Homo sapiens: one gene and its partners. The protein of the gene in region 5 interacts with the protein of the main gene of each other region in a biochemical or structural test. Each region holds a gene or a part of one and is shown on either strand. Other genes may lie near its edges. The genes, in order: SLC2A7, CIT, SLC9A3, GRM5, SNTG2, CYTIP and RGS12.

Region 1 (4,263 bases), on a different chromosome or scaffold from region 5:
TTTTGGCTGGGAATGGCTCACACCTGTAATCCTGGCACTTTGGGAGGCCGAGGCGGGAGGATTGCTTGAGGCCAAGGGTTCAAGAGCAACCTGGCCAACATAGGGAGACCCTGTCTCTATTAAAAAAGAAGAGAAAAGAAAAGAAAAAAAAAATTTTACTTTTGAGAGACTTACGACTTACTCTGCCAGAGGCACCATAGGAAATATTCTTCTTCTTTTTTTTTTTTTTTTTTTTTTTTTTTTTTTTTTTGAGATGAAGTCTCACTCTGTCACCCAGGCTGGAGTGCAGTGGCATGATCTTGGCTCACTGCAACCTCTGATTCCCGGGTTCAAGTGATTCTCCTGTCTCAGCCTCCCGAGTAGCTGGAATTACAGATACCCGCCACCATGCCTGGCTAATTTTTGGATTTTTAGTAGAGATGAGGTTTCACCATGTTGGCCAGGCTGGTCTTGAACTCCTGATTTCAGGTGATCAGGTGATCCACCCACCTCAGCCTCCCAAAGTGCTGGGATTGCAGGCGTGAGCCACCGCTCCCAGCCCAGGAAATATTTTTACTAATTGTGTGACTTCAGGCAAGTTACAGAACCTCCAGAAACCTTAATTTCCTCATCAGTTATGGAAACAAGATGTACCTTATAAAGAATGTGTTAGCATTAAATGTGATTAAGTGATGGTACATTGCTTGACTCGGAGGTTCCATCCATGGTAATAATTGTAAGTACACTAATATATGTATATATACGTAATACACAAACAAATGTAATACAGTGTCTGTAGACATGCTAATATATGTATACAAGCGTAAGCATAGACGTATACCAAGGTCAAGCCTGTAGTCAGTTCTCAGTCCTCATCTGAGCTCATCAGCACAGGCTGTCCCTCCCTCCTTGACTCTCATCCTTTACTAGGTTTTGGGGACATTCTGCCCTCAGGGTCTTCCACACCTGCAAGGGCCCCTTCTCTTTTTCCTTTTTTCCCCTTTGCCCCAATCCCTAAATGCCACAGAGTTCAATCTTTGACCCCATTCTCTTTCCAATCAACAAGGGGCCTACCCAAGGTGAGAGCAGTGGGACCTGAGGCCCAAAAAGACTGGGCTGGAAAATGGAACAGGTCCCCCAGCATCCCAATGTGCCCGGAAAGGACGACACTCCAGGGGGAAACACCTCCTGCCACGCCCTGGTCTCCAGGGGTGAGCATCCAGGGTACTAGGGCAAGCTGGCTGCTCCCAAAGGCAAGATGGTGCCTCCTACAGGCAAGATGGCAGCCTCCACGGAGGAAGATGGCGGCTACCTTCCACCCACGACCCCGGTCAGCTGCTGCCCGGCCCACCTTGTGCCCACCTTGTGCCCACCTTGTGCGGCGTGTTGACCACAGAGAGGTTGTAGCCGTACTGGAAGGCTGAGCCAAAGGCCGCGCTCAGTGTCGCCAGCAACAGCGTCGGCTGGAGCCGCTGTAGGAGACAAGTCCAAGGTCGGGACGCTGTGGGCTTGGGCCTCGGGAAGTGGAGTGGCTGGGCCTCCACCTCCCTCCAGCCTGGGCTGGAAGTGGGGGATGGGGGATCCCAGGCCGTGCCCCCGGAAAAGAGGAGGAGGTGGCGCAGGGCTGGGGCTTTTGGGGGCTGAGGTCTCTGCACGCATTCATTCCCTCCTTGAGGATGTATCTGAGCATCTGCTACGTGCCTGGCCCTGTACTAGGCCCTGGAGGCCAAGTGTGAAGTAGGGGATGCTTTAGGAAAAAGGCCCAGCAAAGCACTGCCTTTAAGAAGCTCACTTTCTAGTGAGGGGAGCCCACCCCGTCCAAGAAAGACAAAGATGATAATTCCAAATAGCTAGAATGCTGTGAGGACAATAAAATAGGGTGATGGGTGGGGTAGCAGCCTGTGAGGAATGAGAGACTGTGTTCAGTAGGGTGGGCAGGGCAGGGAAGGCCTCTCTGAGCAGGCGCCCTTTGAGCCGGGACCAGAATGGATGAGAGGGAGCAGCTGTGTAAGCATCGGGGGGAAGAGCATCCCAGACAGAGGGACTCATTGCTTGCCTCTGCCTCTAGAACAGGCCCTTAGGAAAATCCCGGCAGTCGCCTGTGCTCAGGGCCAGGCTTTCCATGGTTGCCACAACACCCAGGGCAGCTTGGAGGGGAACTGGCCTGAGGGCCAAAGTCTGAGGAGCAGGTGGGCAGGGTCTCTGACCATGTCCTAGAGCCAAGGCCCTGGTGCATGCCCCCTCCCCACTGCCCCCTCCACCCCTCACTCCTGTTCCACATGTCCTCACCCCAACCCTCACACTTAGCTGCCTGGCTGCCCACAGCCCGTAGCTCTGCACATCCAGGAACAACCAGACAGAAGGGCAGGATTCGGGCATTCTTCAGAGGCCATCTCCCCTCGATCTTTAAGGGTAGGGGAAGCGGAGGGGAGCAGGGGTGGAAGGGAGAGAGGCATCTCCAGCACCATCCGCTCTCCCAGCATTCGCTCAGCCACCCTGGCCCATGTCTGAGCCATGAGGTTTGAGCATAGCTGCTTCTCCACATGGCTCTCCCAGGCCTGGTTATCCTGAAGAAAAAGGAAGCACGCTACCCGCTCCTTGCTAAAAGCATTCCACGGCCTTCACCTCCCTCCACAGGTCTGCACAGCTGGTGGGAGAGGGACAGTGACAGGTTCCTAGTCTTGGCACTTACCCCCTCCCTGGATGGAATGGGTGGAGGGGTTCCCGCCTCTTTGTTCTCCATCCTTGTTCAGGTGGGAGAACAGGTGTGCTCTACCTCCCAAGTGACACCTGCTCTGCGCCAGCCACCTAAAGACCGGCTGTTTCTCCCCTGGGCCTACCTGGCTTTATGATCCTTTTGCTCTCTGGACCCTGCTGACTTTCCCCAGGAGCAAATTCTCCTTGGAAATGTTGATAAGACACACGTTGCCAGTGCACAAATCATACACAGCACGAATTTCGTCTTTGCACCCACCAAGCCCCAAGCCGAAAGCTCCCTAGTTGCACCAAGGAGAGAGAAAAAACATTGCCTGACATTGGTCCGCAGAAATGAGGACTTTCAGAGACCCAGTGAGGCTGTGACCTGGATCTAGGATGCTTTTTCTGTGTCATTTTTCCATGTATGCCTCTTTTTTTTTTGAGACAGGGTCTTCCTTTGTTGCCCAGGCTGGAGTGCAGTGGCGCAATCTCAGCTCACTGCAACCTCGGCTTCCTGGGCTCAAGCTATTCTCCTGCCTTAGCTTCCCAAGTAGCCGGGATTATAGGCACGTGCCGCCACACCCAGCTTTTTTTTTTTTTTTTTTTTTTTTTTGAGGTGGAGTCTCGCTTTGTCGCCCAGGCTGGAGTGCGGTGGCGCAATCTCAGCTCACTGCAAGCTCTGCCTCCCGGGTTCACGCCATTCTCCTGTCTCAGCCTCCTGAGTAGCTGGGACCACAGGTGCCTGCCACCATGCCTGGCTAATTTTTTTTTTGTATTTTTAGTAGAGACGGGGTTTCACCGTGTTAGCCAGGATGGCCTGGATCTCCTGACTTCATGATCTGCCCGCCTCGGCCTCCCAAAGTGCTGGGATTACAGGCGTGAGCCACCGTACCCAGCCTTTTTTTGTGTGTTTTTAGTAGAGATGAGGTTTCACCATGTTGGCCAGGCTGGTCTAGAACTCCTGACCTCTAGTGATCCGCCTGCCTTGGCCTCCCAAAGTGCTGGGCTTACAGGCATGAGCCACCGCACCTGGCTTTTTTTTTTTTTTTAACTTTTATTTTAGGTTCAGGGTATATGTGAAGGTTTGTTACATAGGTAAACTCGTGCCACGGGGGTTTGTTGTACAGATTATTTCATCACCCAGGTATTAAGCCCACTTCCCAGTGTTTGTTTGCTGCTCCTCTCCCTCCTCCCACCCTCCAGCCGGAAGTAGATCCCAGTGTTTGCTGTTCCTTTCTGTGTGTTCCTAGGTTCTTCATATATGCCTCCTCTTGTGCATTTGGACTAATTGTCCATTTGGGGGAAAGAACAAATTAAACACTTTCAGAAAAACACAGTTATTATTTCTAATTACACTAAATAGTGTTAAATAAGTCAATAAAATATTGGACAAAGGTGCTTATTTCAGAATCATTTCTACTAGCATTTTTTTTTTAAAGTAGAGAATGATTGAATAAATTAGGAGTAACTAATTGATTGGAATGCCAGACTTCTGTTTCAAAGGATAATTATGAAATGTGGGAACATGGAAACATTAACATGTTTTTTAATTAACATGACCTTTAAGAGAAGTGATCAAAGCAGAAT
Region 2 (3,500 bases), on a different chromosome or scaffold from region 5:
GGGATTGGAAACAACCTAAATGGCCATCAACAGGAGCCTGGCTTAACAGGTGAATTGCATGCTCACACCACGGAATACTGTGTGGTTCTCTGAAAGAATGGGGTAGGTCCTTATGTACTAATGTGAAACCTCTAAGATAGCACTTTAATGAAACGAAGGTGTCTTGCAGTGTATACTGTAGTGTGCTATGATATTTATAAGAGAAAAAAGGCCTGAAAGATAAGCTTACGTTTTCTTGTTTTTGTTTTTGAGACAGAGTTTCAGTCTTGTTGCCCAGACTGGAATGCAATGGCTTTATCTTGGCTCACTGCAACCTCTGCCTCCCAGGTTCAAACAGTTCTCCTGCCTCAGCCTCCCAGGTAACTGGGATTACAGGCATGCACCACCACACCCGGCTAATTTTGTATTTTTAGTAGAGACAGGGTTTCTCCATGTTGGTCAGGCTAGTCTCGAACTCCCAACCTCAGGTGATCCGCCCACCTCAGCCTCCCAAAGTGCTGGGATTACAGGCGTGAGCCACCACTATAATATTTATAAAAGAAAAAAGGCCTGAGAGAGAGATGTGCTTATTTTTTCATATTCTTTTTTCTTTTCTTTTCTTTTTTTTTTTTTTTTTTTGAGATGGAATCTCACTTTATCACCCAGGCTGGAGTGCAGTGGGGTGATCTCGGCTCACTGCAACCTCCACCTCCTGGGTTCAAATGATTCTACTGCCTTAGCCTCCCAAGTAGCTGGGACTTCAGGAGAATGCTACCACACCCAGCTAATTTTTGTATTTTTAGTAGAAACGAGGTTTCACCATGTTGGCCAGGCTGGTCTCAAACTCCTGACCTCAGGTGATCCGCCTGCCTCAGCATCCCAAAGTGCTGGGATTACTGGCGTGAGCCACCATGCCCAGCCTATTTTCTCATATTCTTTAAATATAATCACACAATGTAAGATACATGAATGGTATAGACATGTGGTCACATATATGAACCAACACTGAGGATGGGGAGCCAGGAGACTGACTTCTTTCTTTTTTTTTTTTTTTTTTTTGAGATGGAGTTTCCCTCTTGTTGCCCAGGCTGGAGTGCAATGGCGCAATCTCGGCTACCGCAACCTCCGCCTCCCGGATTCAAGCAATTCTCCTGCCTCAGCCTCCCGAGTAGCTAGGATTACAGGCATACACTACCATGCCCAGCTAATTTTGCATTTTTAGTAGAGACGGGGTTTCTCCATGTTGGTCAGGCTGGTCTTGAGCTCCCAACTTCAGGTGATCCGCCCACCTCGGCCTCCCAAAGTGCTGGGGTTACAGGTGTGAGCCACCGTGCCTGGCCAAGACTGACTTTTTAATCTTTAACCCCTAGTATTACTTGTAATTTTTACCATATGCCCACATGTCTTAGTCGACTAAAAGAAATTTCCATACAACTCCAACGTACCCTCTGGAGTTGAAGACTCCTTTCTGCGGCTGGATGGCGGGGCCAGCAGGCTCATGGCACTGGGCTGGTGCTCTGGCGACCGCACGATGGCGGACATGGCGATCTGCTGCCTCGCGGTGGCTGGCGTGGATGGGTGTGGGTGGTCCGTTGCTTTGCGGTGGGCAGCTGCAGAGAGACCAGGACAATGCCTTTTGGTTAGCTGGGTCGCCTAGAGGACCAAACTAAGCCGAATGTCCCTGGGCTATCTTTCAAGGACCCAAGACCAAAAGAATATGCGTCACATCAACTTGGCAATGCACAGGGGCCATACGTTTTTCAGACATGGGATGTCTGGTCTGAAAGCGTATGGGCCATAAACGAAGACACTGAGCTAGTTAGTCTTGGCTGATCTCACTGAGATCAATCCTCTGCCTTTTCCACATCCTTGAGCATTTTGGAGAGAGTGAGCCCCTACCTTCCTCCCGGGCGGACCGGAGCTCGATGCGGGTCTTCTGAAGGGCTTCCTCTAGCTCTGCACAGCGAGCTTTCTCCTTCTCCAGGGCCAGCTTCAGCTCATTGTACTGCAGAGGAACCTGTGTGGGTAAAGCAGGGTCCTCTTTCCGTCGACTAAATAAACCCTAGCAATGGAAACAGAGATATCTCCTAACTCCTGGAAACTGGCACTTGAAACTAGCTAAAGGAAATCTGACTCGGGAGGAGCAAACCACAAAAGCCAGGAGCATACTCACTGTAAGTGTATTTAGTAAAAATGGCATGTGAAGGGGGGGAAGGGTAGGCTGAGCCACAGCCCGTTCCAGCCGGCTGAAAAAAATAGGGGTGCGGAAGTTTTCACCAAGAGGATTAAAGATGCTTGAATGGCCACCACCTCTTCCTCTAGCATTGCCAAGACAGGAGAGTCATGTCCTGAGTCTTTCCCATTCAAAAAATGGAATCAGGAGAGTATGGAGTATGGAGTCAGGAGAGATGGTTCAGAGGTCACTCTTGCCTTGGAATATGTCTCATGATGCTCAGTTACAAGACACAGAGATGAGTGTTTTGTAAAAGGAAGCAAAATTTTAAAAGGAATGCTAAAATGAGGTCAAAACAAGGGGCTTACTCAAAAAAAAATGCAAATGAAAATATTTACTATACATGGAAAAAAAAGGAAAACAGAATAATGCAACTTAAAAAAAAGGTAACTAAAAAAAATAACAAATGGAAACACCCTAACTAAATCAAGTGACATAACCAGGTAACAGTTCACTGCTAAAATAAAAAAGATTAAATATCATAAGCATAACAACCATATACAGTCACGCAGCATGCAAGAAAATCCTTCCCGTGCAGCCAACGTCTAGTGGGAGGCGGCCTCTGAATGTTGTGCTCATGCCCTTACAGCGAAGATGGCACCGGAAATATTGAGACAACTGTCAACTTCAGCCCTCCACTCCTTCCTCCTAGGTATTCCAAGTCATCAAGGCCTCTCCTGCAAAACCACTGCCACTGCTGCTATGGTATGCTTCTGCATTTGGAAGGAAACTGCAAGCTTCTTCAAGACTTTTCTGGAACTGAGAACACCTGGCCAAACCTAGTATGAAGGCTTTAGTGGTTTGGGAAAGCATGTATAGATCAGGCTTATGAAAAACAATCTTCTCATGTGCACTATGTATAACCCTGCCCCTAGTTTGTAATTTGTCTCCTGCAATCTAAAAGGGTTGTTCAGTACTTGGCAGAGGGGAGAAGTGTCCAGTCAGACACTTCAGGCAGGTCACCCCAGCTCCCTGAGTTCTAGTCTCTTTGTGAGCCGATCAAAAGGACTGGACTAGATCACTGTTAAAGTCCTTTCTGGAGTGTGGTACGAGAGACCTGAACTGCTGAAGCCCCATACTTGTGACTTGCTAACTCCCTCTAGAGTCATGTATGCATGACTTGGTATAAATCTTTCTCTCTGCATACATCCCTCTGCCCCAACTGCTATGTGTGTGGGCTGGGGAGGGATTACTTCTTTAACAAAGATACTATGATTTGAATGGTCATAAACAAAAAGTAGTTTGTTAGACTTGATCACTGATATCTTTCAGTAAGACCTATTATAAT
Region 3 (3,500 bases), on a different chromosome or scaffold from region 5:
GTTCCTGAATCTTCTCCTGGCCTTACTGAGCGCTGATGTGGCCTTTGGGCCTCTGTGGAGGCACCGTCCCCGCCTCCCGGAACACCATCTCCTCCAGGGACACCCACACACCGTCCGGGCTCTGCCGTTAGCACCAGTTCAGTTTCCCTCCCTTCACCTCTGTCATGGGCCAAATTGTGCCCCCGAAATTCCCATGTTAAAGTCCCCAGGACCTGGGCATGTGAGCGTGAAAAAGGGGAGTATGGCACAGTCAGGTCACCGGGGTGGACCCTGATCCAATAGGACCCGTGTCCCTGTGAGAGGAGGCGACTCGGGCACATTCACGCAGGGACGGCCACGTGAGGACACGGGAAGGCACCGTCTGCAAGTCCAGGACCGGGGTCCCGCAGGAGCCCACCACACTGACACCGTGATCCAGACCGCACTGACACCCACCGCACTGACACCGTGATCCAGACCGCACTGACACCCACCACACTGACACCCACCGCACTGACACCCACCACACTGACACCGTGATCCAGACCGCACTGACACCCACCGCACTGACACCGTGATCCAGACCGCACTGACACCCACCACACTGACACCCACCGCACTGACACCCACCACACTGACACCCACCGCACTGACACCCACCACACTGACACCGTGATCCAGACCGCACTGACACCCACCACACTGACACCCACCGCACTGACACCCACCACACTGACACCGTGATCCAGACCGCACTGACACCCACCACACTGACACCCACCGCACTGACACCCACCACACTGACACCGTGATCCAGACCGCACTGACACCCACCACACTGACACCCACCGCACTGACACCCACCACACTGACACCGTGATCCAGACCGCACTGACACCCACCACACTGACACCCACCGCACTGACACCCACCACACTGACACCGTGATCCAGACCGCACTGACACCCACCACACTGACACCCACCGCACTGACACCCACCACACTGACACCGTGATCCAGACCGCACTGACACCCACCACACTGACACCCACCGCACTGACACCCACCACACTGACACCGTGATCCAGACCGCACTGACACCCACCGCACTGACACCCACCACACTGACACCCACCACACTGACACCCACCGTCGTTCAAGGCACTGCACCTGCGGTACTTTGTCATGGCGGCCCTGGCAGATTACGTGGTTCCTATGGGATTTTGTTGTTTGCTATTCACGTATTTATTTTATTTGAGATGGAGTCTCACTCTGTCACCCAGGCTGGAGTGCGATGGCACGATCTCGGCTCATTGCAACCTCTGCCTCCTGGTTTCAGGTGATTCTCCTGTCTCAGCCTCCCCAGTAGCTGGGATTACAGGCGCGTGCCACCACCCCTGGCTAATTTTTGTATTTTTAGTAGAGACGGGGTTTCACCATGTTGGCCAGGCTGGTCTCGAACTGCTGACCTCAGGTGATCCACCTGCCTCGGCCTCCCAAAGTGCTGGGATTACAGGCGTGAGCCACCGCACCCGGCCACTCATGTATTTTTTAGGAACTCAGGAATGGGTGGCAGTAACTGTGGGTCCAAAGTCACAGACGCTCTGGGGACCAGGAGGGCGGGATTTCAACAGCGCCATCATTAACCCTGAAGCTATGGAGTGGGCGGGCAGGGCCTGGGAACTGTGGAAGATACAAAGAAGCCTCGCGAAAGCTGCCAGTCGTTCTGAGCTGGGAGGAAGGAGGTGGAGGGACGGGACGCCCCCGGGAGGGGAGTTTGAGGACAGGGTTTCACGCCCTCCTTTGCTGACTGACCGATGGGGGGTGAGACGGGGCCCAGGCCTCCCACGGCTCGCCCGCTCTGGAGCGGTGGCTCCGTTGCTCACCACGGTGACTGCGTCGTTCAGCAGCGACTCCCCGAAGACGATGATGAACAGGACCTCGTTGACATGGACCTCCTCAAACACGGCCAGGACGGCCACCGGGTCCACAGCCGCCATGAGGCTGCCAAACAGGAGGAAGTCCAGCAGCCCAATCTGCAGGTCGCCTGGAAGACAAGCCGGGCCGCGGGGCAGCTGCAGGGCCTGCCACCCGAGGAGGAGGGCCCTGGGGAGGCGCTCGCCTACGGGTCGGGGTTCGGAGCCCGTCTGGCTGGCGCCGGTGGCGTGGGGAGCTGGGTCAGCTTCCTGCGTCCCTCCCACAGACCCCCAGCCCCCTCCAGGGAAGGCTGCTGTCTTCCGAGGGGGCCACCCCATCTGAGCAAGACAGACAGACAGACTGACCCTGGCCCTGGCCCTCTCCTTCATCTTTGGGTGAACGGAGGCAGGTGGGTGCAGGGGCACCGCATGCTGGGGAGGGATGGGGGCCCATCGCCTGGAGTGGCGTCCCAGCCCAGGAGAAGCAAGTGGGGCTGACCCAGGACGGGCCCGGAGCCGGGACACACAGCACCCAGGGGCGCGGCCAGGGAGGGGCAGGTGGGAGGGCCGTTGGGGGTGTGGGGGCAGATTGTGGGGATGAGCAGGGCTGCGGTGGGAGCAAGGGGGCCCGGAAGACGTGGGTCCATGTGGTCCCTAGCTCCCGGCCGGCTTCCCTCCCCGCATCTGCCTGTGGGCTCTGGTGCCCCTCGCTGGGGAGGTTTTACTGAAATGCAGCCTTATCCTTCACAAGTCTTTGCCATTCAACCCAGGGTTCAGGCCTCGAGGAGGCCACGTGGGGGTGCCAGGCTCCAGGGGACCCTCAGGGAACTGAGTGTGGCCACGTGGCCCCGAGAGTCTGCCCTCTCTCACGGCCGCAGGGCTCAGAGGACACTGGGCCTCCTTGCTGCCTTCCCGGCCGTGAGGGTCCAGGGACCAGGAGACGCCAGGGCCGTGAGGGTGTGGGAGAGACCACCCAGGGAGGGGGAGGCCCCCGACGAGTCCCCCCGCACAGCTGCTGCCTCTCTGCTGGGCTGGAGCGGAGCCCACCACCCCTCTGGGCTGAGGCTCGGGCTGAGGAGGGGTTTGTCCCTGGAGCCGGACGGGCCCCAGGAGACAGCAGAGAGCAGCCTGGCCAGGGGTTTCTGTGCTGGCGCCTGGGAGGGGACAGATCAGGGTCATCTCTGCGGTGACTAAACCCCGAGTTTGCTGTGAGCTCCTAAGCCCCAGCAGCCTCTGGCCAGTGTCACAACACCCCGAGGAAGTGACAGATGCCAGAAGAACCAGCGTTCAGGGAGTTAAAGTTCCATGTTGGAACGGGAACCACACAAGCCTTCTCCTCTTCCAAACTCAGGCCTCAGGACACGAATCCCCTTCAAGGTCATCTTTAAACGCGGCCTCCTGGCACGGCCGCCCCCAGGGCAGTGATGGCCCCCATGGATGTCCTGGGGTCGGCCGCGTTCAGACTCCCCGGCCGGCAGCCTTCCCGTCTGGACAGTTGCCCACGGCCGTGCCAGGAGGGCTCATGCCACCAGACCGCATGTTCCAGGCCTTTCTCCACCACGTGCTTTGCCTGTGCAAGGGCCTCTGATGCCTGAAGCTCTCGC
Region 4 (3,500 bases), on a different chromosome or scaffold from region 5:
AAGGAGCACTTCATCTAATTTACAGATCAAGAGCAAATTGATCATGCTATTTCTCAAGGCTAATTTTTATTTTTATTTTTTGAGACAGTTTTGCTTTTGTCACCCAGGCTGGAGTGCAATGGCATGATCTTGGCTCACTGCAACCTCCACCTCCCAGGTTCAAGCAATTCTCCTGTGAAGGCTAATTTTTAGATGAATTATTTCATTTGTGGTCCCTTCTACTATTTCAGATAGTTATTAACACTTTCAGCCAATTGTTTAGAAATATTGGTGCCACTGAGATAAAGGGAGAGTGAATAAAACAATGCAATGGAGAGGTAGAAAAATGGCAAAAAGGAACCTGACTAATAATCTCCAGCAATGTTTTGGAAACCAAGTTCTGGACAGAAATCTTGAGTTCCAAGACACAACTCTGCAACTAATTATCTGACAAGCAAGGTAGAGTTATGTGACCTTTCTATTTTAGTTTCCTTAACCGTAAAATACAGAAGATTAAATGCTGGCCTGAGACACAGTGTTAACATTCTATGGAATGAATAGTAATTTATGTGTCTTTATTATTACCATGATCATCCCAAAATTTGTTTTAACTCTCAGCACTGTTCAATTCCTGGAGAAACAAAATAAAGTCCTTTTAAAAATTATTCAGTAGCTTCCACAGTACCATTTATTATTTTTCCAAGGTAAATTGTCTTGTGTAATGATAATTAGTAGAAATGCTGAGATGGGAAAAGTGTACTCCCAGTTTTTAGAAGTCAAACAAGCATATAGACTATGAATCATACTGAAGTTCCTTCAATCAAAGCTGGATTGTTATCACATTTTTAAGTAAATAACTGATGGGAAGTCATATTATAACCTGAAATTGCAATCTCTAGGTTAACCTGAAGACCATATCTTCAATAATGTATGCTACCAGTACAATTTATTGGTACATTTTTCTCCCCAGAACATCACTGATTTGTTTTTTGCTGTAACAAATTAACATTCCTGTCATTAGACAGAAATAATAAATTCAAGAACCAGTGAAAACAGAAAATGAAGTGTAGCGTGAACAGGATTTTACAATTAATCAAGGGAGTCATTTTGACACCTCATTTTTATAAAGAAGCAAAACTAAAAACTTACAAGTGCCTGCTATTTATCCACATACTATATAGTCATAAATGGTGAGCTACGTACTTCACTAACACAAATTCCTCTATTCAGCAAATAGTCTTTGAGCACATATTATATGATGGGCACTCTAATAGGCCCTGTGGATATGCTGTAGATTTTCAACTAAAGTCAGGAAAACTAGTGAAGTGTGAAATCTTGTCAATCACCCAGGAAGTACAATATAAAATTTTTTTTTGTATAAAACACAATACAATAATTACTTTTCTTAATGAAGTTGAACTAGATCAAGGTAAAGAATATAATAATGAAATATATTCAAGCGCTTAACTATTTGAAACATTCAGACTTTAAGGGAACTATCACATCTCTAGCCACAGAAGTATAGGCAAAGCATTTTAAATATTCTTTCTTGCCCACAGCATATATTCTGTTTTATTTCATATTCGAATTTCAAGAATATTAATGCATGTTATTTTTTTTTTTTTGCTTTTGAAGTTTAAGCAATAGTATCTGATTTGGGAGAAGGGAAGTTAGAGACTAAAGTGAGAGGGATGAGTATGTTTATACTGGACTCCATCCTGAAGGCATTTTTTATTGCTAACAATAATAGTCAGCTGGGTAATGTTGAGGGTTTCAGCTGGGCTCAATTATGTGATTGCAATTAGCTGTGGGTTGGAAAGGCAATTTTGTTGATCTGCATTGCACGCTCTCACATGTTTGAGGTCAACTGGTCTAAGATGCACTCATTTGGAAAACCTGGGTGCTCTCATACTTCACAGGGTGACAATAGGGTTCCAACACAAACTAGGAAGAAAGTTCTCACGTCAACCAAGTGCTATTGGTCAAAGTGTCAGAAGGCCAGTGCTACATGAAAGTAAAAGGGAATTATCAAGTCAAAAGCAAATGATGTGAATACAGAAGCACCATTAGTAGACGTCATCAATGCAATCTGCCACACTGCTAAATGGGCAAGCACCATCAATCCTGTGTCATCGTGGGCACATGTATCAAGGTTTGCAAAAGTACTAAGGCAAAGGACCCTTTACATTTCCTTAGTGCAGAGAGAGTTCTTACTCCATTAAAAGAAGTGATTTTACTTTTCTTCTGAGTCATTGCATATTCCTTTCCTCTGCCCAGTTGAAGAGCTAGTTTGATCTGCTCTTTAAAAAATGCTTTCTTTTTTCTTCTTCTTCTGTTTTATACTATAAATCTCTTTGCCTAGAAGTTCCAGGCATAATTTCTGTGTAATAGAACAAGCCACAGTAAATACCCAGTCACACAGCCTACTAAAGCCATAAATCACAGGAAATAGCAAGTGTAAGAGATTAACATCGAAGCTGAAACCCAGTTTTCCTTGTACACTCCTCTGGAATTCTGTGATGACATACACTTTCTTGAAGGAACATCTTGTGGTACCCGTGACACAGTACGGTTAGGTTTAAGTATAAAACACATAGGCAATTAGGAGAAAAAATGTTTTTTGAAAATAGGACCACATCTTTTCACAGACCTTAATGGTTCATGTGAAAGCATTTGGAAATTTCCATACTCTTCAAGAAAGAGAATATTGATGGAACAAAGGAGAATAATTATAAGAATATGAAGATAAATTATCAAGTACTGGGATTAATTCTCCTAATGCTAGAGAAAATCACCTCAACCCAGTGAGAGGAAGAGACTGGATGATAACTGACACTATCATTTCATGGAAGATCCCACCAAGACTTTCTGAAAAACCAAGTGGGGAGGAAAAAAAAAAAAAAGCATGACCTTAGAGAGTTCCCACAGTACCCAACAAAGCTGTATCCTGTTTGACTCTCACTTTTCTGATCCTGGAGGTGAGTTTCACCTTGTGAAAATTCCTACCATGCCATTCTTGTACTGATAAATCATAAGACTTAACACTACATAACCTCGTTATTCACATACTTGCTTGGGATCAAAGCAAGATAAATATTTCTTGACACAACCACATAAACAGTAAGCAAACGAGTATTTCTTCCAACCTTTGAATGTCCAATTCCAAGGTTTGTTCTCTCCTGAATCCTGGTGGTACAACCTAAATATTTTGCCTGAATTTGGCATTGCAATTTCTATTGTCTTTTGTTTTCCCACAAATAGAATGTTTTCATGTAATTGTTATATTTCAGTAGGTAAATTATGTATTTAATATAGAGCTTAAAGTGTATGTATATAAAAATTATGCATAAAATATTCCACCTCATTTCTTAACTTAGATTTCTTCTCAGAAGCAGCAACTCTTAGTAGTTTTGCTCTTCTCTGAGAACAATTCTATGAAGATCCAATCAAATTGTTTGCATAAAAACCCCTTTTAGAAAAAATAAAATGTTATATATACAGAAATGCCCCTTGTTTTATTC
Region 5 (3,500 bases):
CTTGACTTCCCCATGGATGGCGAGTGTCTGGGAGCTGGTTTGGTTTCTTCTCGGTGGACCCCGGGGTGCCAAGCGCTCTGCCTTCACTTGGTGTGGCTTTGCTTACAGCAGCTTCCTACAATCTCATGTGTGTCCATCAAAGAGCATGTTAGCTCCTGAGCAGCAGATGCTCTGTGAATTTTAGCTCCGATAATGACCTTGGCCACGTGAACACCATCCTAAAAGGCCTGAGCGGCCACCATGAGGCGGGTAGAGAGGCCGGGTTCCAACTGTGAGCCACGGAGGAAACTCGGAGGAAACCGTGAAACTCGGAGGAAACAAAGGCCCAGAAATGCCCTGGAAGAAGCGGCTCCTGATCTTGCATCCAGACGTGCCTGAAAGCAGATTGCGTGACTTACACTAGTTACCCGGCTTCTATAACAATAAACCAAACAGTGAACCAACAGTGAGCCACGCTGTGAACTTTCTTTCCCTGTTTCATTAACATGTTAGTATCTGCCATCAGCATTCATGTCAACAACTTTCACAGTTTCTGTTCATTTGATACTTAATTTTTATTGCTTTCTTTGATAAATTACAGACTAATAATGTTTATATGGTACTTACGGGCTTACAAATAACTTTGTTTCAGTTATCCCATTTGTTCCTCTCAGTATTCCTATTTTGTGGTACGGTTGGCATTTGAAGCCCATCGTACGGACAAGGAAAGCCCAGCTCAGAGGTGAGATGTCCAGCCTGCCTCATGAAGCTATGGCATAAACGTGCCTGGACTGCAGACGCCTTCCTTTTTATTGCAGGACACAGCCGTCTGCCCCTCGTGCGAGTCCGTGAGCCTCTGGGGCTCCACGTGCATTCACTGCCTCAGGGGGCAAAGCTGATGATCTTTCTCAAGACCACAGCATCGATAAAGGGTCCTTCATGGAGCCTGGGTCCACTGTCTCTACTCACATCTTATTCCTGCTACATCAATGATGGTGTAAACCTCCAAAGGCAGAGTTAGGACTCTGGACTCAGATTCCTTCTCACCACTGACTTTACGAGGATGACCACAGTACTGACCCTGCTGAGAGCACCCAGTGTTCAGTCATCCATGCATTTGGTGCATACGTCACCAACCCTGAGAATCAGGAAATGCCAACTCCCTGAGAAGACACTGTCGTTAGTACATGTGAGCTGGAGCCAAGCGGTGACCATGCGTGTCCTTCACACGCCCTCACGCGCAACCAGGGACCCCCAATTCATGAGAGGGGGGACCCCTGCCCCCATGCTGCCCTGAGGTCCCTGCAGGCCCCACCAGGCACCCCCGATTCATGAGAGGGGGCGCCCCTACCCCACTCTGCCCTGAGGTCCCTACAGGCCCCACCAGGCACCCCCGATTCATGAGAGGGGGCGCCCCTACCCCATGCTGCCCTGAGGTCCCTGCAGGCCCCACCAGGCACACCCTATTCATGAGAGGGGGGCCCCTGCCCCACGCTGCCCTGAGGTCCCTGCAGGCCCCACCAGGCACCCCCGATTCATGAGAGGGGGGACCCCTGCCCCACGCTGCCCTGAGGTCCCTGCAGGCCCCACCAGGCACCCCCGATTCATGAGAGGGGGCGCCCCTACCCCATGCTGCCCTGAGGTCCCTGCAGGCCCCACCAGGCACACCCTATTCATGAGAGGGGGGCCCCTGCCCCACGCTGCCCTGAGGTCCCTGCAGGCCCCACCAGGCACCCCCGATTCATGAGAGGGGGGACCCCTGCCCCACGCTGCCCTGAGGTCCCTGCAGGCCCCACGAGGCACCCCCGATTCATGAGAGGAGGCACCCTTACCCCCACGCTGCCCCAGGATCCCTGCAGGCCCCCTAGTCTAGCTGGATCCAGGAAAAGCTGCCCCTGGCCCACACTGGCACCACCCCCTGTTCCTCCCCAGGCCTTTGGAGAAGAACAGGCTCTTCTGAAAGAATAAAAGCGTAGAGCTCTGAGATGGGGAAAATTGGAGGATGGGACACAGGGAACTTTTGAGGATTCTTCTAAAGTCTGTTTTTGGTCTGAGAGTTGGTTGGCCAAGAGTATGGAATACATGACTGTTTATCGAGGTGTTCACTGGTGAGTTGTGTGCGTGTGTGTGTGTCCTGTAGCTCAATGTAAAATATGCCTAAAAATAATAGTCTCTGACCTCTTCATGTGGGGAGCCAGGGAACTTGGCTGTCGTCCGCAATAATCTACTTGACCCAGCTGTTTATTAACCACTAGATTAAGGTCAGCCTTGCTTTGTATATGTCGCACCAGTTAACATGAACAAATGAGAAATGATGGCAATGAACCCATTTTTAGTTAGCACTTACTTTAATAAGAATTAATGGATACTTGGACAAAAGTGTAGATATAAGTCTGTCAATATTTAATAAGCACCTAATTCATGTGGAATATTACACAATCTGCCTAAAATAGTCTCCCAGCATTTTGAAGTGTAAAAATTAATTTATTATAGCAGACATCCAGGACCAAAGGCCCCACGGGAAGCGATGGATCCTGAGGGACAGGTGCTCCCCAGGAGGACCAGGAAAGGTGATCAGAAAGGGCTGTGCGAAGGTGGAGGCAGAGCTGCCTGCCCTCCCCATGCAGGGGACCTGCTTCCTCTGGCTTCTTCCCCTCTCCGGCTCCACACAGTCACCTCCACCTTCACCTCTGTCCTCCTGCCAAGTCAAGAGTACCTTGTTCATCGCCATCAGGCAGAATATCAGCCACAAGTAGATAAACCTCACATTCTGATTCAAGAAACACTAATTAGAATGAGAATGACCCCTAGACAGGGATGTCAGCTTTTTAAAAGAATGACTTTTAAAATAGCAAACTCTGGTCTGATAGATTTGGCTCAAAAATATGCAGAACTGTGTTATACCATCTCTGTTTCCTACCCCTTCTCCTACACACCCCACCTTGCCTAAGAAAGCAGCGATGACACTCACATTTGAAAGATTATTAGAACATAGCTTAGTGATGACTTATTTTTTTAAAAAAATATGTTTGCTTTGTTCTGTATTTTATCTTCAGTTAGCTGCTTGAGACCATGGAGGTATTATGAGTCATATACATTAATATGCATTGTTTTCTTTTTTTCTTTTTTTTTTCAGATAGGGTCTCACTCTGTTGCCCAGGCTGGAGTGCAGTGGTGTGATCTCGGCTCACTGCAACCTCTGCCTCCTGGGTTCAGGAGATTCTCCTGCCGTAGCCTTCCGAGTAGCTGGAGCTACAGGTGTGTGCCACCATGCCCGGCTAATTTTTGTATTTTTCGTAGAGATGGGACTTCACCATGTTGGCCAGGCTGATTTCGAACTCCTGACCTCAAGTGATCCACCTACCTCAGTCTTCCAACGTCCTGTGATTATAGGCGTGAGCCACTGCGCCCGGCCAATATGCACTATTTTCTTAAGAAAAAGTCTATAAAAGTGTACATGACATTTCTCTTTTGCAAATAGGCATATGTAAAGTATGTTTTTAAAAAATATTGCATGACAG
Region 6 (3,500 bases), about 160 Mb from region 5:
TTCTTCAAGTGGCATGCCTTCCTGTTGCCTTTCTGAGCCTCATAGACACACAGAAGGAGGAAGGAAGAAAGTGATTTACACTGGTTTGCAGAATTTGATATTCCTCCAAAGGTAATTGTGCGGCTCTTGATAATTCAGCAGTTTAGATTCACCACGACATTTCTTTTTCAAGGGCTATCTCAGTTCCTCAAATAGATCTTTATTTTACCACTCACACATTCAAGGATGAAAAATGTGCCTCACTGCATTAAATTAAATTACCTTTAAAACCTGCAGCTTTGCTTCAAGCTCCGTTCTTTTCAGAATCATTGTTCCATTAAGAGTCTCTATCCTGTTTTAAGGAAAAAAAAAAGAAGAGGAAGGTGGGGAGTGAGTAACATGAGTGATTCGTTTAAATAAGTACCATACTACAGAGTACTACACTTTGAGCACATACTATACTAAAAACGAAATACAAATGTTACAGTTCTCATGGCACTTCGAGTAGCTGGACCAAAGCCAAATCTTCTGATAACAGAGAAAGAAAATGGGGGAAAACTCCCCTTGAGAAGGTGGCTAAAAGAAAGGATCCTAGTTAATTTGTAAACTATAGCTTATTTTATAGAAGTCACTATGTGACAATGATGGCTGCTCTCTACTAGAATCTGTTCTTGTGGGGATGGGCTGAATGACCTCACTCATTTGGTAAATATTTATTGGGCATCTACTATGTACCAGATTCTAGAAACCATGCTGAACACAAGGGGCACAACAACAGAAATAATAGGCTCTAGGGGCTTTCACAACCATGGAATTAACATGCTACTTCTTGAAAGAGGGAGAAATCCTTTCCTCCATAGGATTCTAGGAGCCTTTACCTCTGTAAATCTCCTTATAATTTTGGTACTAGAAGAAACAGAAGTACAACTACTATGACATAATAACCTTCATATGATTCTTTATCTCAAAACATTCAGTTTACAAACTCTAATCCTAGAATTATCAACTTACCAGTGTTCTGTTCTTCCCACACCACACACATTTCTAAAAATAAAATACTTGTTCTATTCTGAGTGATTTGATTTGTTCTGTGTGTTCAAGTTAAAGGCTTTTATTTTGACTACTAAACCATCAATCTGAATATGATTTAAAAATTTCATTTGTGAATCACACACCAATTTTTAAAGTGTTGGTTCAAGTTCCTTCTTGTAATTAAGCTGTACCTCTCTATAAAGATGCAAGGAATTTTTCAAGGCATGGTAAAAGCATTAAATGTGGAGATCAGTCTTCTACTTCTAATAGCATCATGCCAGGAATAATCAGGTGGTAGCAAGCTATATACTGTCTGTTTTCTCCTTAAGGTGATCTTGACTCTCTGAGAAATAGTGGGAATCCATATGAATCTGTTTCATTGGGATTGAATGTCAGTTTGACCTGCTGAAGCAATAGATGTGTATGGGCAAAACTGCAACCATTGATTTGGCCATTTTCCTCAGTATTTGTACAGACTGTCTCCCATTTTCCCGGATTTCCAACAGTTACCTCCATCTACAACCCCTATTTACCTGTGGTCTACCCTCTTCACCCATGTGGAACATGCTTTCTGACTCTAACTACCAGCAGTTCCCCTCAGACTCTGCACGGTTCCTCTCCTTTGGATCCAGGGTTCTCTAGAGCAAAAGCACCTCATCCTTTACCCTGAACTCACAGGACCTATAGAGTTGGACCCAATTTGTTACCACCACCATCTTTCAAATCTGCTCTCACAAACACCCAAAGCATCCTTTGAAGTTTTACACCAGAATCACTGAAAAGCATCCAGCAGATTTTCTACTGGCAGCTTCCAAGGAGCAGCTGTAGCTGAAAAGGACAGATCCTGGCATCCAGAGCAGGTGGTCAAACCCCAGCCCTATCACTTACCAGTTATGTGACCTTAACTAAGCCCCCTCTAAGCTTCAGGCACTTCATCTATAAATAGGAATAAAATTAACCTCATGGGTGGCTGTGAAGAATAAATGACACAATATATGACCCACCTCAATCAGAATAAAACCCAAACTTGTTGGCATGTCCAAAGAGATCCATGGTCTGCCCCCAGGCCAACTCTCTGGCTTCATTTCTTATTATACCCTCTCTAATCCATCAAATACCAATTATACTGTCTTTTTCTCTTTCCCTTGTACATGCCAAGCCCATTGTGAGCACTCAGAGACCTCTCTCTTTGCCTGAAGTGCTCTTACGAGGAGTTCATTTGACCATCCTTCTCTTCATTTAGATCTCAACTCAAATATCGCCTCCCTAGAAAAGACCACTTTACACATCTAAGCCAAACTAGCAGCCTTCTTACCTAGCATGACAGGCCATTGCTGTTTTGCACTTTTCTCATAGTAGTTATCAATAACTGAAATATACACATTACTTAAATTTCAGGCTTTTCTGAGCCATTTCCTTCCATAACTATTAACGTACTAAGAGAGTCTTTATCTTCGTCTCTCCTGAGCCTATCACAGAGCTGGAAACATAGTATTTGCTCAATAAATATGATTTTAATGAATGAGCGAATTTCATCATTTAACTATCCTAATAAGATTTTATTAGGTGCTAGTATTGTTATGGTAGAAAAATCAGTCAAACCTCTAATTGGGAAAGCCAGTGTTCTATTAAGAAGTTTGGGGCCAGGGGCGGTGGCTCATGCCTGTAATCCCAGCACTTTGGGAGGCGGAGGCGGGTGGATCATGAGGTCAGGAGATTGAGACCATCCTGGCTAACACGATGAAACCCCGTCTCTACTAAAAATACAAAAAATTAGCCGGGCATGGTGGTGGGCGCCTGTAGTCCCAGCTACTAGGGAGGCTGAGGCAGGAGAATGGCGTGAACCTGGGAGGCAGAGCTTGCAGTGAGCCAAGATCGCGCCACTGCACTCCATCCAGGGCGACAGAGCGAGACTCCGTCTCAAAAAAAAAAAAAAAAAAAAGAAGTTTGGAACATTTGGAACATGTGGTGTGAGTATGTGTGTTTCAGGGTGGGGAGGGTTGAACAGACTATTCTTCCTTCCAAATGGAACACTAGAAGAGAAAAACAGGTGGCTTGTCACATAAGAGGAAAAACTCAGCCCTTCTGACCTTTGATTTGTTTTAGCTACAGGATTATATCAACCATGAAAATTGGATCAGTTCTTCCCAGTTTAAAGAGAATGTGTGCCAGTTTAATTGAATTTGACATTAAAAAAATACATTTGTAAAGGCCATCCTTCCCACACAGACGTTTGGGCTATTGATGTCCTCTGACTTCAGATGTTGACAGTATGTTCAAGTGTGAGGAATCTTGAGAAACAAAAGGAACTGATAATGTTTGTACCCCACTCTAAAGCTCCGGTGCACTGCCTCACTCCGTCTTGTAATGCTGAACAAAAGGCCTATTTATTCACTCATCAGGCTTTATGAGAAAACATAACATTTTGAAGCCCCACGGGAACTAGACAGATAGTTACGTTAGCAGGTTTCCGGACGATCTGATCAGGT
Region 7 (3,500 bases), on a different chromosome or scaffold from region 5:
AGCAACCCCAGGAAACAAATACAAGGGGGAATCACTTTGTCACGGGTGAGGGGAGAGGGAAAGCAGGACATGCGTGAAACGGTCTCACTAAAGCACGCTCAGAAAAGCATCTGTCACACAACAAAGGTGCTGCTGTTCCCGGCAAGTGCCAGCTATCACTGTGAACAGCCCCAGGACAGCAGGTCATGAAGCCTTGATGGCTTCCTCGGGGAACAGAACACCTCTCGGCTTTCTCTTCCAAACAGGAATAGATGCTGCCTCAATGAAAGACATGACTTCCCAGTTTATTCGCACCATCCGCCTCACACTGTGTGACATAATGATGGACAATGTCTTCTATGCAGTCCACCCAATTTTTCTACTAGACTCTTACTGTCATGGGCCTCTGCTTATTAAAAAGAAATGGTTTGTAACTCATGTAAGTAATATCTTATTATCTATAATCACGTTTCTTTGTTTTTATTTTTTAGAGACAGGGTCTCACTCCATTGCCCAGACTGGAGTGCAGTGGCACAGTCATTGCTCGGTGCAGCCTCAAACTCACTCCTGGGCTCAAGCCATACCAAGCACACCCCCATACTCGGCTAACTATTTTTTTTTTTTTGGAGAAAACTGTATTGAGATATTTTAAGTCACGTATCTAATATAAAACCAGTTTGCATTGTTTCAGCTTGTCTTCCTTGGAACCTGTGGTTGCCCTTCACCTCCTTCTGGCAATTTAAATTGCTCTGATTTCGGCAGAATATTCCCCGGACATCAGGACCATCTCCACATTCATCCCAGTCTTTGAGACAGCTCCCGGAGATCAGCTTCCTGGTCAAGCACAAGAATCTCAGCAGCACCGTGATCTTCCTCTCTCTCCTGGCCAGGTAAGACCCCGACTTTCAGGTGGTGGTTCCTCTTGCTGAGGCTGCTCATCACTGGGCTCAAGCACAGGCCCAGTTAGCTCAGGAGGCTGCACATACCGTCTTGGTCTAAGCCTACATGCTGATCTTCCTTGCCAACTCATATTTCAAACGGCTGCTTCTCAGTAGTGGGTAAAGAGTCCAGAACGCAGGAACGCAACCCTCACACCCTCACAGGTCCACAGTGTTCACCACGTGGGCAAAGGGGCCAAGGAGAAGACACCCAGTGAACCTTGGCTAATGTTTTAATTTTTCTGTAGACGAGGTCTCACTATGTTGCCCAGACTAGTCTCAAACTTCTGACCTCAAGCAATCCTCCCACCTTGGCCTCCCAAAATAATCACATAAGTTCAGCTTATAGTTTAATTTTTTTTAAAACTGTATCAATTAATAGTAAAGCTAGCAGAACAGACAGTGAAATTTAGAAGACCATGGGGTACTGGATTCCAGCTGAACTTCCATTACACCATCGGGGCTACCAGTAAGAACGCCTGCTCCCAAGCCCCTGCACCTCCCAGGGACTCTGACTTAGTAAGTCTGGGGCAAGGCCAGGAAGCTCCAACTTCCCCCTACACACCTTCCAGCTAACTCTGAATCACCTTGACTGGAGATCATTTAACCCAGCCTCTTCACTGTGTGGAAAAGGGAACAAGGTCCAGCCAGAAGTAATTCATCCAAGCCCTGAGGCACAGATGGGATGTGACACGAAGGTCCCCACTCGCCGCACAGCACTGCCACCTCCCATCAGGAGTCACCGACCACGTCACACAGGCTGAGTGTCCCTTAGAAGAGATTTTTGGGACCAGAAGGGCTGTGGATTTTTTCTGATTCGGAACATCTGTATATACGTAATGAGATATGTTTGGATAGGACCCAGGTCTGAACAGGAAATTCATTTATGTTTCATATACACCTTATACACACAGCCTGAGGGTAATTTTGTGCGGTACTTTTGATAATTTTGTGCATGAAACAAGGTTTGTGTACACTGACCCATGAGAAAGCAAAGGTGTCACTAGCTCAGCTATGCCTGAGGTGCCACATCGGTGTCAGAGGGTTTCCGATTCTGGAGCATCTGGATAAGGGATGCTCAACCCGCACTGTCACTCCTTCACTCATTCATCATTAAAAACTCATGGTGTAAAGAGGACAATAAAACAAAACAAAGAAAAAAAACTCAGGGTGATCTAGAAATAAATATTGCTGCCATGACACTTTTCTATTCCCTTCTAAAGTTAAAACCTCCTATAAAAGGTCCTGTTCTGATAAACTCCTCCACTCATGCCGGGCAGCACCCAAGACCTGCAGGTACAGAGATGGGTCCTAGGCCTGAGCTACGATGCAGCAGGCCCCGAGCGAGGCAGGGCTGGAAAGACCAAGCCAGCACCCGTCCGCACTGCCCGTGCACACAGTGTGAGGCGAGAGAGACGCCGTCCTCCGAAGGCAGAGAGAGTCTGGGGGCACCGAGAAGAAGAGAGCAAGGCACAAGAACAGCACAACATCAGCAATCACGGCCTCCAGGGTGACCCCACGGGCTGCAATGGCAGCCGCCACGGCCAGGACTTGCTGTGCAGCGCATGTCATCCTAAACACCATCATCGCTCTGAGGAAGGCTCTGTTACAATTCTCGCGTGCAGATGAGGGAGTGGGGGCACAGAGAAGCTAAGTAACTTGTCTACCAGCACACAGCCAATTAACGGCAAAGGTGGATTTGAACCCAGGCTATTCTTGGCTTACCCACACTTACGTGGATGCACAGAGGAAGGGCCTGAGACAGCAAGACACCACGCCACCTTCTCCACCTGGGACCTGCCCCCGCAGGCGCCTGCCCACCTCACACCCTCCCATAGTCATCATGTCCCAGCAGCCTCCCCCCACCACCACCTCACAGTGCCCACAGCTGCCGAACACCCACCTGGCACCCCCCTCCCACCTCATCAGGGACACACACACCAGACGATCTGATACCCGCCCCATGCAGACCCGCACTGGCCATCCCTGCATCCAGCCACCTCCCATCATTCACCTGAGAGGCCCTCCAAGTCCCTGGCCACTCTTCCCAGACCTTCCCTGGACCCAGAGCAGCATGGACCTGCCCGCCCTGGACACAGCAGGACACGGTGCCAAAGGGAGTGAGCTGGCAGATTCTGGAATCACCAAGGCCACTTCCAGGCCATTTTACTGAGCCACCAGTCAATACCTCTCCACACTTCCCTTCTTGGGGTGCAGCGTGGACTGGAGACAGCCCTTGCCTTGGCCTTCCAGGCCCCAGCTCCTCTCCCGCCCGGTTCCCCTCAGAGGACACCTGCCATTTCCCGGGTCCCAGCTCCTCCCCGACACGGTTCCCCTCAGAGGACACCTGCCATTTCCCGGGTCCCAGCTCCTCCCCCACACGGTTCCCCTCAGCGGACACCTGCCATTCCCGGGTCCCAGCTCCTCCTCAACACAGTTCCCCTCAGCAGACACCTGCCATTCCCAGGCCCCAGCTCCTCTCCTGCTCAGCTCTCCTCAGAGGACACCTGCCATTTCCCGGGTCCCAGCTCCTCCCCCACACGGTTCCCCTCAGAGGACACCTGCCATTTCCCGGGTCCCAGC

The links.
Region 1: the proteins of SNTG2 (region 5) and SLC2A7 interact in a test that uses a peptide from one of them, tested with the Homo sapiens proteins (one large-scale study listed by IntAct).
Region 2: the proteins of SNTG2 (region 5) and CIT interact in a test that uses a peptide from one of them, tested with the Homo sapiens proteins (one large-scale study listed by IntAct).
Region 3: the proteins of SNTG2 (region 5) and SLC9A3 interact in a test that uses a peptide from one of them, tested with the Homo sapiens proteins (one large-scale study listed by IntAct).
Region 4: the proteins of SNTG2 (region 5) and GRM5 interact in a test that uses a peptide from one of them, tested with the Homo sapiens proteins (one large-scale study listed by IntAct).
Region 6: the proteins of SNTG2 (region 5) and CYTIP interact in a test that uses a peptide from one of them, tested with the Homo sapiens proteins (one large-scale study listed by IntAct).
Region 7: the proteins of SNTG2 (region 5) and RGS12 interact in a test that uses a peptide from one of them, tested with the Homo sapiens proteins (one large-scale study listed by IntAct).

Annotation. Positions count from the first base shown.
Region 1 is NC_000001.11:9,023,624-9,027,886, forward strand, and holds the start of SLC2A7 (solute carrier family 2, facilitated glucose transporter member 7), read right to left. Parts: upstream 2,801-4,263; 5' UTR 2,723-2,800; coding exon 2,672-2,722; intron 1,452-2,671; coding exon 1,353-1,451; intron 1-1,352. UniProt on the Homo sapiens protein: Probable sugar transporter. Even if its physiological substrate is subject to discussion, it is able to transport glucose and fructose. Does not transport galactose, 2-deoxy-d-glucose and xylose.
Region 2 is NC_000012.12:119,716,821-119,720,320, forward strand, and holds part of CIT (citron Rho-interacting kinase), read right to left. Parts: intron 2,042-3,500; coding exon 1,879-2,041; intron 1,590-1,878; coding exon 1,425-1,589; intron 1-1,424. UniProt on the Homo sapiens protein: Plays a role in cytokinesis. Required for KIF14 localization to the central spindle and midbody. Putative RHO/RAC effector that binds to the GTP-bound forms of RHO and RAC1. It probably binds p21 with a tighter specificity in vivo.
Region 3 is NC_000005.10:486,450-489,949, forward strand, and holds part of SLC9A3 (sodium/hydrogen exchanger 3 isoform 1 precursor), read right to left. Parts: intron 2,028-3,500; coding exon 1,867-2,027; intron 1-1,866. UniProt on the Homo sapiens protein: Plasma membrane Na(+)/H(+) antiporter. Exchanges intracellular H(+) ions for extracellular Na(+) in 1:1 stoichiometry, playing a key role in salt and fluid absorption and pH homeostasis.
Region 4 is NC_000011.10:89,041,983-89,045,482, forward strand, and holds part of GRM5 (metabotropic glutamate receptor 5 isoform a precursor), read right to left. Parts: intron 1-3,500. UniProt on the Homo sapiens protein: G-protein coupled receptor for glutamate. Ligand binding causes a conformation change that triggers signaling via guanine nucleotide-binding proteins (G proteins) and modulates the activity of down-stream effectors.
Region 5 is NC_000002.12:1,233,849-1,237,348, forward strand, and holds part of SNTG2 (gamma-2-syntrophin), read left to right. Parts: intron 1-3,500. UniProt on the Homo sapiens protein: Adapter protein that binds to and probably organizes the subcellular localization of a variety of proteins. May link various receptors to the actin cytoskeleton and the dystrophin glycoprotein complex.
Region 6 is NC_000002.12:157,427,090-157,430,589, forward strand, and holds part of CYTIP (cytohesin-interacting protein), read right to left. Parts: coding exon 3,470-3,500; intron 332-3,469; coding exon 262-331; intron 1-261. UniProt on the Homo sapiens protein: By its binding to cytohesin-1 (CYTH1), it modifies activation of ARFs by CYTH1 and its precise function may be to sequester CYTH1 in the cytoplasm.
Region 7 is NC_000004.12:3,310,021-3,313,520, reverse strand, and holds part of RGS12 (regulator of G-protein signaling 12), read right to left. Parts: intron 1-3,500. UniProt on the Homo sapiens protein: Regulates G protein-coupled receptor signaling cascades. Inhibits signal transduction by increasing the GTPase activity of G protein alpha subunits, thereby driving them into their inactive GDP-bound form.